Homo sapiens: one gene and its partners. The protein of the gene in region 2 purifies or fractionates together with the protein of the main gene of each other region. This does not show direct contact. Each region holds a gene or a part of one and is shown on either strand. Other genes may lie near its edges.

The links. The genes of interacting proteins can lie anywhere in the genome.
Region 1: the proteins of PRMT3 (region 2) and EIF2S3 purify together in Homo sapiens (affinity purification with mass spectrometry, with the first as the bait; one large-scale study listed by BioGRID). This does not show direct contact.
Region 3: the proteins of PRMT3 (region 2) and EIF2S1 purify together in Homo sapiens (affinity purification with mass spectrometry, with the first as the bait; one large-scale study listed by BioGRID). This does not show direct contact.
Region 4: the proteins of PRMT3 (region 2) and CSTA purify together in Homo sapiens (affinity purification with mass spectrometry; one large-scale study listed by BioGRID and IntAct). This does not show direct contact.

The regions. Positions count from the first base shown.
Region 1 is NC_000023.11:24,071,956-24,076,411, reverse strand, and holds part of EIF2S3 (eukaryotic translation initiation factor 2 subunit 3), read right to left. Parts: intron 3,322-4,456; coding exon 3,149-3,321; intron 1-3,148. UniProt on the Homo sapiens protein: Member of the eIF2 complex that functions in the early steps of protein synthesis by forming a ternary complex with GTP and initiator tRNA.
Region 2 is NC_000011.10:20,505,245-20,510,658, reverse strand, and holds the end of PRMT3 (protein arginine N-methyltransferase 3), read right to left. Parts: intron 2,356-5,414; coding exon 2,246-2,355; 3' UTR 1,321-2,245; downstream 1-1,320. UniProt on the Homo sapiens protein: Protein-arginine N-methyltransferase that catalyzes both the monomethylation and asymmetric dimethylation of the guanidino nitrogens of arginine residues in target proteins, and therefore falls into the group of type I methyltransferases.
Region 3 is NC_000014.9:67,377,328-67,381,783, reverse strand, and holds part of EIF2S1 (eukaryotic translation initiation factor 2 subunit 1), read right to left. Parts: intron 1,126-4,456; coding exon 1,019-1,125; intron 192-1,018; coding exon 94-191; intron 1-93. UniProt on the Homo sapiens protein: Member of the eIF2 complex that functions in the early steps of protein synthesis by forming a ternary complex with GTP and initiator tRNA. This complex binds to a 40S ribosomal subunit, followed by mRNA binding to form a 43S pre-initiation complex (43S PIC).
Region 4 is NC_000003.12:122,328,248-122,332,703, reverse strand, and holds part of CSTA (cystatin-A), read right to left. Parts: intron 1-4,456. UniProt on the Homo sapiens protein: This is an intracellular thiol proteinase inhibitor. Has an important role in desmosome-mediated cell-cell adhesion in the lower levels of the epidermis.

The sequences.
Region 1 (4,456 bases), on a different chromosome or scaffold from region 2:
CAGGCATGCGCCACCATGCCCGGCTGATTTTTTGGTATTTTTAGTAGAGATGGGGTTTCACTATGTCGGCCAGGCTGGTTGCGAACTCCTGGCCTCAAGTGATCCGCCCACCTCGGCCTCACAAAGTGCTGGGCTTACAGGCATGAGCCACCGTGCCTGGACTGAAAGTTTATTGCTTAAATCTATTTCAAAATACACTGGAAGTCGTGTGTCTGTAATAGCAAAAAAATATAATCACAAAAGACAGTAAAATCAAAAGGGCATAAGTCACCACAAATAATTATTTACTTAAGAGACAACAAAAATTTAACTTTCTAAATTACAGGGCAATAATTCAGATAAATCTCCTGGACAAGTGATGAGACCATCGTGGGCACAGTAGCATGGAAGCCTTAATAAAGGAAACAGGGCTGGGCGGGGTGGCTCATGTCTGTAATCCCAACACTTTGAGAGGCTGAGGTGGGAGGATGGCTTGAGGCCAGGAGTTTGAGATCATGCTGGGCAACACAGTGAGACCAAGTGTCTACAAAAAACAAAAAAATTAGCTGATCACGGTGGTGTGAGCCAATAGTCCTAGCTACTTAGACACTGAGGCTGCAGTGAGCTATGATCATGCCACTAAACTCCAGCCTGGTCAACAGAGAGACCCTGCCTCTAAAAAATATAAAATAAATAATTAAGGAAGTAGATAGTGGGTAGGGGTGATGTGAATAATTATGGGGACAGTTAGGGCACAAAACAGTCTAATTTAGAGGGTTTATATAAGACAATGCAGAAGGAAAGCTTAAATGGGTTGAAGCAGGTTTCTAGAAAAGTCCCAAATATCAAAAAGTAGTGAGAAGACTCTAGAAATTATTAAACACAGCATGATGAAAATGTTTTAAGAAGACTAATTTTGACCAAGTTAAGAGGCAAACTAGGAGTCTTTCGCACTAACTGTGAAGTGTAAAGTGATGGTGGTATGGACTGTGATGAGGTGACGAGGAATGGAAAGCAAGGGGCAAACTCAATAACCTGGGAAAGAGCAAAAAGTCAGGAGCCAAAAATGTGTGTATGCTTCCTGGCTCTATGCTCTCAAAAGACCTAGAAGCAACAGCACCCTAAGAGCCATGAGCACACCTGAACACTCAGCTTTTCATTTATAAGAGAAATGGCCAGTTCTAAAACTGGAACAGAGAAGGTACAAGATGAGTCTGGAAGATTTTGTGCCAGAAAATAAGGAAATGTTCCAAAAAAAAGAAGAAAGAGGTCAGGCGTGGTGGCTCATGCCTGTAATCCCAGCACTTTGGGAGGCCAAGGAGGGCGGATCACCTGAGGTCGGGGGTTAAAGACCAGGCTGGCCAACGTGGTGAAACCCCGTCTCTACTGAAAATACAAAAATTAGCCGGGTGTGGTGGCGTGTGCCTGTAGTCCCAGCTACTCGGGAGGCTGAGGCAGGAGAATTGCTTGAACCTGGGAGGCAGAGGTTGCAGTGAGCTGAGATCATGCCACTGCATTCTACCCCGGCGACAAAGCAAGACTCCATCTCAAAAAAAAAAAAAAAAAAAAAGAAGAAGAAAAAAAAATGATGAGTACATGTCAAAAGGACACAAGAGCCAGCCTGAAGGACCTCCACTGGCCAAACGTCGAACAATGCACATCAAAATAAAGGAAGACAGTGATGGATCATAACATGTTGAATAAAATAGGACTCCATGAGTCCATATTATAACTAGATAGGGAAATAAATAATGGCAAAGAAAGAATGCCAAATGATAAATGTGGGGTGGTAGAGTTGAGGGAGGATACTGCAACCCGTAGAGGTGCTATGATTTTGTAATCATTATAGTCAAGTTCGATTCAGGCAAGAATCATCAGTGGATGCTACATCCAGGGGTGTGGGATTCAATGATCAGCAGGCTATTTGTACTGGCTAGAAAGATCTCCCTACAGATTGCTTATTAGTTGCAAGGGTAGAGAGTAACTACACAGCAGAGAAGCTGGACAACATCTTGACTACATAGTCAAAACTAACCTTAACAAAGAGGAGCAGTCAGATATCATGTGCCTCTAGCTGTGATTCCTGAAAAGGAGACTTCACGGTGTATTTAAGTTAAGAATATATAACTGAATCTAATGTTAGGCTTCCGAATGATAAGAAAAACCCAAATTGAGGAATATTCTATAAAGTAACTAGTTTGTATTCTTCAGAACTGTTAATGTCAATTAAGACAAAGGCTGAAAAAGCTCCAGATTAAAGATCAAAGAGACATGAAATTAAATGCAATTCAAGATTCTAAACAGGAGGAACATAAAGTACATTATTGGGACAAGTAATAAAACTGAAACATGCACTGTAGATTTCAGTATTTTGCCAATGTTAAATTTCTAAGTGGTTACATAAGAATATCCTTTTTTGATGGGAAATATACACTGAAGTATTAAGAGATCAAGAAGCATAACATATATAGCCTACACTCAAATGGTTCAGAAAAAAACTTATATATGTAAATAAATCTGTATGTGTGTTTGTCAATCTAGGAAAAAGCTATAGAGGAGTTTTCTGTAAAACTCTTACAATTTTTCTATTAAGTGTGAAATGATTTCCAAAGCCAATGACGATAGAAATACCGAACCCAAATTCATTTGGTTTTGCATAGGTTGTGTCTAACAGGAAGAGAAGCCAATCACAGTATTTGGACTAAAATATGGGACTATAGTCAAGGTTGTAGTTTTTTCTGAGACGGAGTCTCGCTCTGTCGCCCAGGCTGGAGTGCAGTGGCGCCATCTCGGCTCACTGCAAGCTCCGACTCCCAGGTTCACGCCATTCTCCTGCCTCAGCCTCCCGAGTAGCTGGGACTACAGGCGCCCGCCACCACGCCCGGCTAATTTTTTGTATTTTTTAGTAGAGACGGGGTTTCACCATGTTAGCCAGGATGGTCTTGATCTCCTGACCTCATGATCCACCCGCCTAGGCCTCCCAAAGTGCTGGGATTACAGGCGTGAGCCACCGCACCCGGCCGAAGTATAGTTTTCAAAGTCATCCAAATAAATAGTTGAGACTGAAAGCCACAGTAACTGTTGTCCTCAAGGAAGATTGTGTGCTTTTTTTTCTGTACAAGACTGTGTCTTTTTTTAATTAGACAGTGGCAAAGACTAACAAACTTACCGCCAGTGTTTTTCAACTCTTCGGCTAAGGGCAATTTTTTCTCCTACCTCTGTGCACACTGGATTGGTCAAAACAATTTTACCCAAATCGGCCTTGACAGCACTAACTCTCCCTCCTGTTGACAGGGATCCTATGTTCACCATGAGCACTTCATTCTTAGACAGCTTTTGAACCTAGAAAAATAAATTAGGGAAAAATAAACCCCAAAATCAAGAAAATGCTTTCCAAATGTAAGTAAGAATTTACCAAATACTATTGGGAAATATGTCAATCATAAAAAAAATTCTATAGAAATTTCATTGTAAAGGAATTTGAACTATATATAGTATAGTTTATTTGGCACCCACTGAATTTACACAAGATCTACCTTTAAAAAATAGGGTAGTAACCGTACCAGAGTACCTCTTAAAATTCTGAAGCAGTTACCTAGTACAAATGAGGTACAAAATTTCCCAAAGAGGGGAGCATGAAGGACTATGGCTATATAAGAGTTAATATGGGCCAGGCGCAGTGGCACACGCCTGTAATCCCAGCACATTGGGAGGCCGAGGAAGGCAGATCACCTGAGTGGGGGGAAAAAAAAGCATGATAGCTTATTTTCCTCAATCTTTGCCAACACTAGGTGTCAGCAATTTCCCATCTCTGCCAACCTAATCTGGGACATTTTTTAAAAATCATGAAGCTGGGCGCAGTGGATCACACCTGTTAATCCCAGCATTTTCGGAGGCTGGGGTGGGCAGATTGCTCAAGCCCAGGAGTTGGAGATCAGCCTGGGTAATGCGGCAAAACTCCGTCTCTACAAAAAATACAAAATTAGCCAGGCGTGGTGACCCACACCTGTAGTCCCAGCAACTCAGGAGGTTAAGGTGGGAGGATGGCTTGAGCTGGGAGATCGAGGCTGCTGTGAGTCGAGATCGCACCACTGCACTCCAGCCTGGGCAACAGAGCAAGACTCTGTCTCAAAATAAACAACAAAACAAAAATATGGATTTTAGGAATATCATGTCTTTGTCATAAATGGCTAATACTTTTCCCTGTTTATTAAGTTTCTTTCTTAAACTAACTGCCATATAGTTCTCAATTTTGGCCGGACGCAGTGGCTCATGCCTGTAATCTCAGCACTTTGGGAGGCCAAGGCGGGCGGATCACTTGAGGTCAGGAGGTCAAGTCCAGCCTGGCTAACATATAGTGAAACCCCATCTCTACTAAAATATACAAAAATTAGCTGGGCGTGCTGGTGCGTGCCTGTAGTCCCATATACTTGGGAAACCGAGGCAAGAGAATTGCTTGAACCCAGGAGGTGGAGGT
Region 2 (5,414 bases):
TCTGAATTCAAATCCATAGTGAAAACAAGCTGACTGGTTTAGCCCAATGAAAGCGAATCATGTTTGTGAAGGAAGACTAAAGACTATGGTCTTAAAACCAACATTTGAAGAGGTTTTTCCTCCTCATTGCTAGGCCAGTTTTCTGAGACCAAAGACAATTTCTTGTTGAAACAGATTTTGCCACTTTAAATATTAATGCCCATCATAATTTTCTCACGCATTCATGTACTAGGGCAATAATTACTATCTGATGAACGTGACAATTCTTAAACTGATCTAATGTAGGTGCCATATATTCTTTGGGAGTCCTTGAATGGATAATGATGATTCTATCACCTAATAGTTTTCTATGTGCCAGGTACTGATCTAAATTCTTTATTAATTCATAAATTGGCACGTTCATGGAGGGAGACAGAAGTTAAGGAAAGCTACTAAGATCATACAGCAAGTAAGAGCTGGAGCTAGGATTTGAACCTAGGCACTGACTCCATAGCTATCATGCTTCTCAATACTATGCTCCATGCTTGTCAACACTATGCTAAGCTGCCTCGTGTATGTCTTGTTTTGACAAAGAACCAACTGCTGAACTTAAAAGAGGCATGTGGAATGCCTCTCCTTAAAAGCCTTATTTTCTTAAAAATAATCCCTTTGTTAAGACTTGTTTTAAATGCTTCTGATTTTACAAAAGGCCTTAGTATGTTGAAACTTATCTATTTATGAGTGAATAAATGAATGATGAGGCCTAACCCTGCCACCCAGGCTGGAATGCAGTGGTGTGATCTCATTGTGGCCTTGACCTCCTGGACTCAAGGGATCCTCCTGCCTCAGCCTCCAGAGTAGCCGGGACTACAGGTGTGTGCCACACCTGGCTAATTTTTTGTAAAGATGGAGTCTCCCTATGTTGCCCAGGCTGGCCTTGAACTCCTGACCTTAAACAATCCTCCTGCCTTGGCCTCCCAAAGTGTTGTGATTATAAGCATGAACCACCATGCCTGGCCCTGTTTTTTACTTTTAATTAATTAACTTTTCTAGAGACAGAGTCTTTCTCTGTTACCCAGGCTGGAGTGCAGTGGCACGATCTTGACTTACTGTAGTTTCCAACTCCTGGACTCAAGCAATCTGCTCACCACAGCTTCCCAAGTAGTTAGGACTACAGGCATGCACCACTATGCCTGGCTAATTTTTTTAAAAGAATTTTTTGTACAGACCTGTGTTGCCTAGGCTGCTCTCAAACTCCTGGGCTTAAGTGATCTTCCTGCCTTGGCCTCCCAAATGCTGGGATTATAGGTATGAGCTACCATACCCTGTTGAAATATTTTATAATGTTGTTTGATATATTTTATTGAAAACTTTTATAATATCAATATTTTTAAAATATTTTATAAGTTGATACATTTTATTAAAATTTTATTCTACATTTCAAATTGAATCAGTAATTGTAAATGACAACTTTATAGACTGCTTAGTAACAGTTACATGTTTAACCTTTGCACATAAATCTGGTTTGAAAAAGATAATACGTTAGTAAATAAGTACATATTTATCCCAATCTTTAAAAACTTTCATGAAACCTAGGATAAATGTATTGAAATTAGATTTCCTGGGCAGTACTAGAAATCTATAAGGCTAAGGAATAGTCACAAAGAGGGAAGAAACTACAAAATGAGAACCCTAAGTATGCTAGATAATCAACTAGGCTGTCTGCATATATGATTTGTATATGAAGGCTGAAGCTCTTTTCCATATTTTAGTTTTTTTATACAAATCTTTATTACATCCTGATTTTCTAGCAAATACAATTAAAAACTCCTCCTCAGAGGAGTCCATAATAAAATGTGTAGTACCTGTGTTACTAGTTTAATAAAATATCCAAATAACTAACCAATTTGTTTAAAATTTATAGTAAGAAACTTATTAAAAACAAAAGACTATCTCTCTTCCAAATATAGGCCAATGTAAATGATTTTCAATATAGATAAACTCAATGTGGGAGTTACATTTGGTTAAATCTGGTGGAGCAAACGTCTAAGAAAATGATTACGTGGCAGACCATGAGGATCAGCTGATTCTCTTCCTCAGCTGAACTATGTCAGATTCCCACAATGAGAACTTCTCTCTTATTGAGGAGGCTCATTAGGAAAGGGTCCATCATCCATCCATCTGCTCACATAAAACCAGCTCCCTCCTGCTGACCCACTCTACCCCCACATTAAAAACTACAAGGTAGTGTGCTTTTATGGCTGTTTCACTGGAGACCATAAGTTTGAGTTGAATTATTCAACGTGAGGGTCACGGTGAGAGAACGTGGATCTTTCTTATTCTTGTGAACTGTGACCTTTCCTTTCAAGGCTTCACCTGTAAAACAAAGGCAAAAATTGTTAAGAATTCAAGGAATACAGTGTAGCAGAAAAGTAAACAATGTATAACTAGCACTTCTTTTTATTGTGATGTTTTCCCACTTTTTAAACTTTATTTAAGGTTAATATTCTTTTTTTTTTTTTTTTTTTTTAAGATGGAGTCTCACTCTGTCACCCAGGCTGGAGTGCGGTGGTGTGATCTCAGCTCACTGCATTCTCCCAGGCTGGAGTGCACTGGTGCAAGCTTGGCTCACTGCAACCTCCGCCTCCTGGGTTCAAGAGATTTTCCTGCCTCAGCTTCCCGAATAGCTGGGACTACAGGCGCATGCCACCATGCCCAGCTAATTTTTTATTTTTAGTAGAGATGGGGTTTCACCATGTTGGCCAGGCTGGTCTCGAACTCCTGACCTCAGGTGATCCACCCGCCTCAGCCTCCCAAAGTGCTGGGAATACAGGAATGAGCCATTGTGCCCAGCCAATATTCATTTTTTAGAGCAGCATTATGTTTCATTAATTTTTTTTTTAAGACAGTCTCTCTCTGTTGCCCAGGCTAGAGTGCAGTGGTACAATCCCAGTTGACTGCAACCTCTGCCTCCCGTGTTCAAGTGATTTCTCCTGCCTCAGCCTCCCAAGTAGCTGGGATTACAGGCATGCGCCACCATGACCTGCTAATTTTGTATTTTTAGTAGAGACAAGGTTTTGCCATTTTGGCCAGGCTGGTCTAGAACTCCTGACCTCAGGTGATGCGCTCACCTACCTCAGCCTCCCAAAGTGCTGGGATTACAGGCGTAAGCCACTGCGCCCAGCCCTGTTTCATTAATTTTTGAATGAAGCGAGAACTAACTACATACCACAGTGTCAAATCCTTGTGAAAGTGAGTAAAACTATTGTGGTCATAAAGGGTCAATGGAAGCATTTTACTGAACTTCTAAATATGAGGCCCTATGGTGGGTTCTGGGCATCTAGAAAAAAGATATGGTCCCTGCCCTCAAAGAGTTTGTGATCAGGGTGAAGAAAAAAGCTATACTAACAATTACACAATAGGCATGTGTCTAAAGTGTGCTGGAGGTGAGCACTGGGGATGGTTGGAAGGCAGTTAAAGGCAAGGTTTCACAAGAATTAATGAATTACCCAATGCCAGGGCTGAAGTCATGGAGAACCAGGCTTAAGGGATGTACATGTAATGGTATTTAAGGAAAACACATACACAGAACCTTCAGGAATGGCATTTTGAGGAACTGAAAATTATAGCTGGGAAAATGTAGAGGCACATGACAAAGCCATTGGCCATTGATGCACTGGTGCTGTAAAAGGGAAACAATGTACCCATGTGAAACAGTGAACACACAAAAATTACTTACCTGTGCAAAGGCTGATTTCCTAAATTCTGTAGGTTCCAAATTTTTATCTATGTACTTTTCTAATTATAAATACTTCTCATTTAATTTTTCATTTATTTTAAAGAGCTGTTTAAAAAGTAACAAATTGCTAAGTTGTAGTTGATCACCATTCTTTGCTTAAATAATATTAAGATAACACCAAACAGTGTCAGGAATAGCTTTAGCATCTGCATGGACACAATGAGGCTCCATATAATGACCAAGGAAATCTACATAAAACTATTGAAGTACTGAATGAATATCGTATTTAAAAAAATACAAATTCCCCATATTCAAGGAAAATTATCTGAATGCTTTTCAAGATGGTAGTGAAATAACACAAGTAAAACATAACCACCTGTTATATTTATTTTCAGAATATAAAGATTCCATTACTGATACCTTCTCTACATCTTTGCAAAAAAGGTGAGACTCACAGTTTAACACATAATTAAGGAGTTAAATAATAGAAGAAATAATGTGGCCCAAGGTGCAATCCATTCAACAAAATATAACAATTTTTGTGTACGTATATATGTTAATGTGTATATTTGGCTTTAGCTTTTATATCTGACCTATTCCTCTATATTAAGAAAATGATATAAAACTATCTCATATGACATGTTCACCAATAGTGGACATAATAAAGATTACCAGTCAGATAGTTCTACAAACTTTATGGAGTTCAGGTTAATCATTAGATAATTTATGCTTATATTTATTCAACACTTACTTTGTGCTAGGCTCTACTCTAAGGTCTTTACATGATTTATCTCACTTAATGGTCACAAAATATTGCTATGAGGTAAGCGCATTTTCCTTACTCACAGATGAAGTTCAGAAAAGGTAAGTAATTTGCCCAAGGTCATCTGCCAGCTAGTGAAAGAACTAGGATTTTCAGCAAGGCAGTTTGATTCCAGAACCCAAGTTCCTCAACTATACTCTGGTGCTTCCCTATCTCTATCTAAAAAAATGATGATTATAGCTTTAAATATACTATAATGAATAAGAAATAGACCTAAATTTTACCGCCCCGTGGGTTTTGTTTTTTTTTTTTGGTAAAAATATTTACTTGTTTATAAACACAATTGATATGTAAGTTGATGTAACTATTATTCTATAATAACTAATGAACAATGATACACGTTTTCTTATCTAAGGCATTAACCTAAGGAAGAAATAAAAGATCATTAGTATATTGAACACATTTAAGATTTTCCTATTTTGACTTTTCTATTTTGGCTATTTTATTTGCTTCTTTTTAAATCAACATTTAAAAACTTCTATTTAAGTTATTTATTGACACCAAAACTGGGAACGAACAGCCACATTATGATAAACTGACAATGTTTTTGTAAATACATGACAGAGAATAGTAATTGCCAACTTGGTTATTGGGTTTAACTTACTGTTATTGAATTGCCAACACTGAATCAACAAACTTGATTTTTACAACACAGTGGCTTGTTAGTTCCTTTTTACTTACAAGCAGTATGTCTTATACAAATTACTTAATTTAGTTGCTGGTATAAAGTAGTTCACATATGAAAAGACAGATAATGGACACTTGAGATTCAAAAATAACAAAATGACCTCCAGAGACCCAACATAAAGTAAGTATTCTATTAGATGTCCTAGTCAGGACATTAAAGTGTGGAGGGAAAAAGGATACAGACTG
Region 3 (4,456 bases), on a different chromosome or scaffold from region 2:
ATGTGATTAAAAAAAAAAAAAGAAACAAAGATCAAAGATCCTATTTGGTTTAGGTGAGCATTTCAGCAGGGAGGGAGACAACTCATGACTCACCTTAATGGGCATGTTTTCTGTAGAACAATTCAAACCTGCTCTTAGGGCTTCTTTTACAGCATCAATGCCTTCATAACCATAACAAGCCACTTCAATATCTACAATTACAAAAATTCAAAAGTTGATAAAAAATGCAAAAAATATTTAAAAGTTTAAAGGAAATCAAACACGTGGCAGATATATTAGTATTCAAATACTTATACTGAATCCAACCTCTCTATACTGCAGTTCCTTATTTATAAAAGGGAGGCAAGGAGGAGTGTGGTAAAGATGGAATATAACAATAACTGCAACTTATCTAAAACGGTTTAGAAATTGCATTACCCTTTGACTCAGAAATTCTACTTTTAGGAATTTGTCTTGAAGAACATTTGTGTAAATGGTTAAGTATGTATAATATAAGGGTGCTAATTTGTAGCATTTTTTTGTAACTGTGAGAAAACTGGCACAACCTAAATGTTCATCAGGAGGGGACGGGTTTATGTTAAGGTTTATCTGTTCTATGAAACATTACCCAGCATAAAAAAGAATGAGAAAGATTCCTATGTTCTGCAATGGAAGGGTACCTATGATACACTGGGTGGAAAAGGCTAGTTGGAGAAAATTCCGCATGGTATGTCTCATCTTTGTAAAAATTTGGAATATTTTAAAGTATGCACTAAAACAAAACAATCAAACCCCTCTTTTTAAAAAAAGGGCTACCTTTAGGTTAGCTGAACTCACAAGACTGTTTCTACTTGTGTCAATATATAAATTTTATGATTCAGAAGCCAAAATAATTTCTTAAGCTTTTGTTATAAAAAACAACCATTTAGAAAAATTTATAGATGTTGATGTAGCAACATATTCTTTGGTAAGTCTCATTATTTAATAGCTTTTTTGATGCATGCAAAATACTGTAAAAATCATTTAAAAAATCATTTACCTGCTCGAATTTTGACAGCCTGTGGGGTCAAGCGCCTATTAATATTATTAATGAGTACTTCCCGTTCATCTTCATTCAAATCTAAACTATCCAAAATAGATGGGTCTCTGGTCAAAAACATAAATAAATAACAAAAGGTCAAGGTTATATTACTGATAAATGTGAAACCAAACACTATGGAACAATGCATATAATAGTTAAGCATATAATAGTTAATGCATATAATAGTTAAGGCTTTAGTGTCACAATTAGAATTCAAATCTTAGCTTTGCACTTACACCCCAACTGATTATTAGTGAAATCAAAATTTTAGTGATCTGACTAAAACAAGCAATTTAATGCCTAACACATCTGATATTCTACTATAATTGATTACTTCCATGCAATTAGCTGTCCCTGCCTCAAGGAGTTTATAATCTATCTTGAATAGAAAAAAAAAACATGGAAAAACTTTTAAATGTAACAGTACATCTGTGGGCATCAGGACAGAAAGGTATTACTTCCAGTTAATGAGGTCAGGAAGGGCTTCATGCAAAAAGTAGCATTTCATCTGACCCTCCTAAGTGCCACAGGACAGGGACCAGGGTCTTATTAACTGGCATGTTTGTTGAATGAGTGAGCAAATGAAAATATGAAATAAAGACTAAAAGAGGAGTAGCACTGTAAAAAGTAAAGGTAGAACTATTGTAAAAAAGTTATGATACATAAGGCTGGGCACCAGTGACTCATGCCTGTAATCCCAGCACTTTGGGAGGCTGAGGCAGGGGGATCACTGGAGACCAGGAGTTCATAGACCAGTCTAGGCAACATAGCAAGACCTCCATCTCTATTAAAAAGAAAAAAAGACACTTTGGGAGGCCGAGGCGGGCGGATCACGAGGTCAGGAGATCGAGACCATCCCGGCTAAAACGGTGAAACCTCGTCTCTACTAAAAATACAAAAAATTAGCCGGGCGTAGTGGCGGGCGCCTGTAGTCCCAGCTATTTGGGAGGCTGAGGCAGGAGAATGGTGTGAACCCGGGAGGCGGAGCTTGCAGTGAGCCGAGATCCCGCCACTGCACTCCAGCCTGGGCGACAGAGCGAGACTCCGTCTCAAAAAAAAAAAAAAAAAAGAAAAAGAAAAAAAGAAAGTTATGTCATGTAAAAAAGGAATAGCATGAGCAAGCATCAGGCTTAATAAGCAAGGGGTCTTATTGGGAATAAAAGGCAAGAGAATTTGGGTGGAGGGAACTTTTACTCAGCTAACATAAAGTAACGAGAAGACAACCAACATAAATGTATAAGAAACAAGATGATAAACAGAAAATGGGCAAATGAGGTGAACAGATGTTTCACAGAAGAAATACAAATGGTTAAGAAACATGAAAAACTGTTGACCTCTCCAACAATCAGGAGTATGCAAATCAAAAGATACTACTGTGAATTCATTAGACTAGAAAAAGGAGAAAAAATCAGATATATACCAAATTGTGGCAAGGATTTGGTGAAACCAAGTCAGTTTAAAGATATATAATCAATCCTATGACCCAACAATTCCACTCCTAGGCATATATATTAGAAACTCTCAAACAACTACATATAGAGACACATACACTATTCATCACAGCCCTGTTTGACAAATGGCACAGAAGGGAAAATTACCTAAACAACTCTTAATAGAGGAACAGATAAAGCATATTCTCACAATGAAATACTATATAGAGATTAATATGGATCAAGTATACATCTATCATTGTGGGGGAATCCTGCTTAATAATAGGCTTATATGTAAAAATGCAAGCTACAAAAAGATACAATAGGTTACATTTTAAATAAAAAATGATAATAGACACATATGTAGTAAAACAATAAAAACAAATGATATTGATACATAATTTCAGAATAGTGGTTATCACTGATAAGTGAGGAAAATAGGTCTGGAAAGGTAAAACATTGTTTCCAACTATGTCAGAAATTTTATGTAATTAAAAGAAAAATGCAAAGAACTAGCATTAGTTAAATCTGGACAGTCCCTACATGAATGAAGCAAGAAAAGAGTGCTAAGGAAAAGGGAATAACACACGCCAAGGTTTAGTGGTAACAAGGGGTTGCTGGAACTAGAAGTTAAAGAGGTAACTAAAGAAGCCAGATGATGACAGTTGAGACAAGTTAAGAAATGTACTGAGGACTGCAGGACAGAAATATAAAGTTGTGTTTAATGGCTAATAGTGCAAACTCTGGATGGAGCCAGAATGCACGCGTTTGAATACTGCCTGGCTCTATGATTTGTTAGCTGTGTGACCTTGAACAAATTATTTAATCTCAGCTTCAGTTTCTTCAACTGTAAGAAAAGGATAATAATAGCATTTATACCACAGGTTGTTGTTAGAATTATATAAATGTTAGTTATCATTATTACTATTCCCACCTTTTCTACCACGTGATATACCAAAAAAAAAAAAAAAAAAAAAAAGTCACATGAGAATAAACTTGAAGGGATTTGGAACCCCAGATGAGTTGGCTTTCTGGGGGACTCTTAATGGTCTTGGGTCCTACTCATTCTCTTTTTTCCCCCCTCTAACTCTTAACATTTAGGAAGGAGTGGGAGGTAAAGAGACAGCAAGTATAGAGAACTGAAAGAGTCTGGCTTTTTTTTTTTTTTTAAGAGACAAGGTCTCACTCTGTCATCCAGACTAGAGTGCAGTGGTGCAATCACAAATCACAGCTCACAGAAACCTCAAACCACTGGACTCAAGTGATCCTCCTGCCTCAGCCTCCCAAGTTGCTGGGACTACTACAGGCAAATGCTACCACACCTGGCTACTTTTAATTTTTTTTTTTTTTAGAGATGGCAGTCTTGCTATGCTGCCCAGGATGGTCTCCAACTCCTGGCCTCAAGCAATCCTCCCACCTCAGCCTTACATAGTGCTGGGATTACAGGCATGAGCTACCACACATAGCCAAGTGTGGCTGTTAAAAGCAGAGGACGCAGTGTTTGCTCCAAGAGAAAGTAAAGGAAAAGTTGAGAAGTGGGTTTTATAGTATAAATGGAAGAAACTAGAGATATTTTTATGCTGATGGAGTAAAAGCAATAAAGGGAAAGGTGACCCAAGAGAAAAAGTAACTAATAGAGATCTCTGAGCAGCAGCTGGGCATAGGTGGCAAGACTAGTTTGAGAGCAATTAGGACACAAATTCCAGTGACAGCAGCATAGGAAGAAATGACAGGTGGGACAGAGATATGTAAGTTTGTTGAGACAGTGGAAAAGTAGTTCTTGTGCAATGGTTTCTATTTTCTTTATAAAATAAAATAGGTAGTGAGCATACCAGCCAAGAGGCAGGGAGCAGGGATAGAGTGGTTTTCTGAGGAAGAACGTGGAAAAGCTCTAAAATAGCCACTACTGAAGAACTGACCAGGAGCAGAGAGAATGTGGAACAGCTGAGGCTGGAGACCATGAATA
Region 4 (4,456 bases), on a different chromosome or scaffold from region 2:
AGCCGGGGAGGAGGCTACCAGGGAGAAGCACCTGGTATAATGCATTTAACCCAGAGTTCTTCAAGCATTTCTCATTGCTACTGAGCATGAATCTTGGTGAGGTGTTTATTCTCTGAGATCTGAGGATTTGAGCCATGAGGCACCCAACACTCAGGCTTTTCCCCTAATCTGTAGTCATTCTACAGAAACAATAGGACTGTGCCTAATTTAATAGAAAATAGATAGAAAGATATTGATGGCAAAGTGGATGAATTACATTTGGGGGAGATTTAGAGAGTAAGGAAGGAGAGTTTGAATAGTAACATGAAAGGACAGTAGGGCCAGTAAGATGTGACTTGTGGACATTTATTGTCTAAGTATGTTTTGAAGGAAGAAGGAAGTATGGGACAAGGCATTGAGGATGCAAGAAATGAAGTCACCTGGCTAAGAGAGGAAGGACTGGCTGAAGAGAGGAGAATAGAGTCTAGGGAGGAATGAGATCCAGCAAGAGATAGGGTCAGCTGGGGCATTTTCTTACCAGAGATCTGCAATCTCCTAAGACAGGTGTTCCCAACCCCTGGGCTGCAGACCAGTACCCATCCATGGCCTGTTAGGAATCGGGCTGCACAGCAGGAGGGGAGCAGTGGGCCAGTGAGCATTATGGCCTGAGCTCCGCCTCCTGTCAGATTAGCGGCAGCATTAGATTCTCATAGGAGTGGGAACCCTATTGTGAACTGCATGCAAAGGATCAAGGTTGCGTGCTCCTTATGAGAAAATAATGCCTGATGATCTGAGGTGGAACAGCTTCATCCCAAAACTATCCCCTCCACCCCATCTGTGGAAAAATTGCCTTCCACAAAGGTACCAAAAAGGTTGGGGACAGCTGGCCTAAGAAGAGTAGGAACTGAGACATCCTGCTGGAGGGACCATGGGGGTGGGAGGCAATGAACAACTGAAGAGAGATTTACATTTGTGGGGTTTCTAGAAAAAGACCAACAAATATGACTGCAAGAATGTTCTGGCAGCCCTGGGTCCTGTCCGGGTTGTTAAGCATTAATCCACAGGTTTGTAATGGTGAGTTTTCTGTGGTTCTGCACCTCGCTTTGGCAAAGTTCTTTGATTCTGGAACAGTAGTAGCTGCATAGAAAGTGGTGGCAGTGGGTGTGACCTTTAATTGAGAATTAGAATGTCAGGAGCTCCCAGGGTCAAGGAAATCATCATGAGTGGAGGAGTATTTGAAGCTACCCTCCTGTCATGGGGTCCAGGCTGGATGAGAGACTCAGTGGGCCTGGGCATGTTCTCATGAAGTTGGGAAGGTAGGTGCCTGAAGGATTCTGGTGTGGCTGAATGACAGGTTCTTTGGGTGTGGGACAGTGGGAGAGGCGACTAATAAGGAGGCTGTGGTCAGAGAGGGGAATGCAAATTTGTGGATGGGGTGAGAGCCATGACATGCTAAGTTCCAGGGTGTGCCCAGGATGGTATGCAGATGAAGTGTTTGTGCGGTGTCCTGACTGACAAAAATCATGTTCTGTGTGTTGGCCAGGAATAGTATTCAGCAATTAGGTTTATGACTAAGGGGAGTGTGTGTGTGTGTGTGTGTGTGTGTGTGTGTGTGTGTGTTTGTTGTGTGCATGCACATTGCATGTATAGTAGCCCTTACCTCTAAAAACAATTAAATAACATTTCTTTCCTTCTCATAAATATGCTCACAATTCTCATCAAAATGCTTATTAACATATTATATAAGATAATGGATCAGCAATAATGATCCGGAGGCTTTTGCTGTTGGGCCATTCATTTATTTGGTTCTTCGTTATACAGATTGTGGCTTTTCATGAATGGGCCTGTGTATGGCTCTGTCTTTCTGGATGTGTCCCTCTTAGCTCCATTCTATTTTATTAATTTCCCAAAGGGCAGGCACTATTTTATGTCCCTGCTACCCCCATAGCAATTCACACAGTTCTGTCTACCTAATCAATGTTTTCTGAATGAAAAGACCACAGTTGTTTTCCATCCTGACAACTTGTCTCCCCAAATAGGAAAGATGAGTATAGCAATGACATCAGCTAATACGGAGAATCTTGGAAGAGGGTTTTCTTCCAAGTGTACTTTAGTACATGGTGCTACAATGACATGTTCAGTCTCTGTTATCTTCAGAATGGGAAAACTCATTTCTCCTGCCTTCAAAAACATTCAAGTTTTCTCAATTGCCATCCCTTGTTTGCCTTTCTTTTCTTTCTGCCCTCATCCAATATTCCTCTTTCACTGTGATATCAAATTCCTTGGTCATGCAGTTATCATTTGTCTTTGACACTCTTCCCTTTTCTATGTGATGATCTTTTTCTTCCTTCTTTCTCTCCTTCTAATGGGGTTCTTCAGTTGGCCTTCCACTAAGAAGCTCTCTGAGAAGTCCAAGGAAAGCTGATAAACTTCAGCTCCTCTGAGAATACTTCCACTTTAACAGGTGATTTTAAAAAACAGAGATACATTCAAAAATAAAAAATAATAAAACTAGCAAGTAAGTGACAGGTAGTGGAGATTGTCCCTAAATTACTAGCATCTATCCATTTTCCCTATTCCTGCATGGGGACCTAACTGTAATTTTGGAGAAGGAATTGACTCAAGTTTCTCACCTATAAAGCGGTTATAATAATACCTGCCTCTTGGGGCTGTTTGTAGGGGCATAAATGATATAATTGACGTGAAAGTGCTTCCTAAACTACAAAGAGTTTTCCAACTCTTCCTCTACCTTCTAACACTGAATTGGAAATTGTGCCCTAAGGCTCACTCCTGCAAGAGAGGGCAGATAAGTGATAATTGGGGCTTTAACACCAGAGGAGCTGAACTGCCTCACAGTAATTATTCACCTGAAAGGAAGGAGGTTTGACCAGCAATCTCTAACATCTTTTCTGGTCCAAAACCTGTGATTATAAAAAAAGCACTTAATTGGATATTGTTTTATATTATGTTCCAGATATCTCGATTTTCCCAACTACCCTGTAAACTCCTAGAGGCCAGGGGCCATATCTTATAGACCTCATGTAGCTTCTATAATAATTAGCATAATGCTAGACACCTAGGAGATATACAAGAAATGCACCTACTATGAAATGATTCAGTGATATTCATTTCCTGTATTTATTTATTTATTTATTTTTTGAAACAGAGTCTCGCTTTGTTGGCCAGGCTGGAGTGCAGTGGCGTGATCATGGCTCACTGCATCCTCAACTTCCTGAGTGCAAGTGATTCTCTCACCTAAGCCTCCCAAGTAGCTGGGACTACAGGCGTGTACTACCTGGCTATTTTTTTGTATTTTGGAGGGGGTAGAGACAGGGTTTTGTCATGATGCCCTTGAACCACCCAGATCAAGCAATCTGCCCGCTTCTGCCTTCTAAAGTGCTGGGATTACAGCCGAGAGCCACCGCACCAGTCCTTCTAAGGAGTAAAAAATTTTATTTTGGCTGGGCGCGGTGGCTCACGCCTGTAATCCCAGCACTTTGGGAGGCCAAGGCGGGTGGATCATGAGGTCAGGAGATCGAGACCATCCTGGCTAACATGGTGAAACCCCGTCTCTACTAAAAAATACAAAAAATTAGCCAGGCATGGTGGCGGGCGCCTGTAGTCCCACCTACTCGGGGGGCTGAGGCAGGAGAATGGCGTGAACCCGGGAGGCGGAGCTTGCAGTGAGCCGAGACCGTGCCACCGCACTCCAGCCTGGGCGACAGAGCGAGATTCCGTCAAAAAAAAAATTAAATTTTAAATTTTTAATTTTTTTTTACTTTTTGAAATGGAGTCTCGCTCTGTCATCCAGGCTGGAGTGCAGTGGCACAGTCTCGGCTCACTCCAACCTCCACCTCCTGAGCTCAAGCAATTCTCCTGCCTCAGCCTCCTGAGTAGCTGGGACTACAGGCGCCCGTCACCACGCCCAGCTAATTTTCTAGTTTTAGTAGAAAACTAGAAAGTAGAAAGCTATGTTGGCCAGGCTGGTCTTGAACTCTTGACCTCAGGTGATCCGCCTGCCTTGGCCTCCTATATGGACTTAACTGTGAGGCTGGTGCTTCCACTGAGAAGACAAACTTACCACACTCTCTCCATTCAGTGTATTTCCGTTTCCTAACAAAGCTCCTCTGTGTTCTGCCACTGTGTGGTAGAGAGGGCAGGCAGTCAAACACTGGGGGTGAGCTAACTTCTTAACTAGGTGACTCTTTTTTTTTTTTTTTTTTTTGAGATGGAATCTTGTTCTGTGGCCCAGGCTGGAGTGCAATGTCATGATCTTGGCTCACTGTGGCCTCCGCCTCCCGGGTTCAAGTGATTCTCCTGCCTCAGCCTCTGGGTAGCTGGGATTACAGGCACCTGCCACCACGCCGGGCTAATTTTTGTATTTTTAGTAGAGACAGGGTTTCACCATGTTGGCCAGGCTGGTCTCGAACTCCTGACCTCATGTGATCTGCCCGCCTCAGCCTTCCAAAGTGCTGGG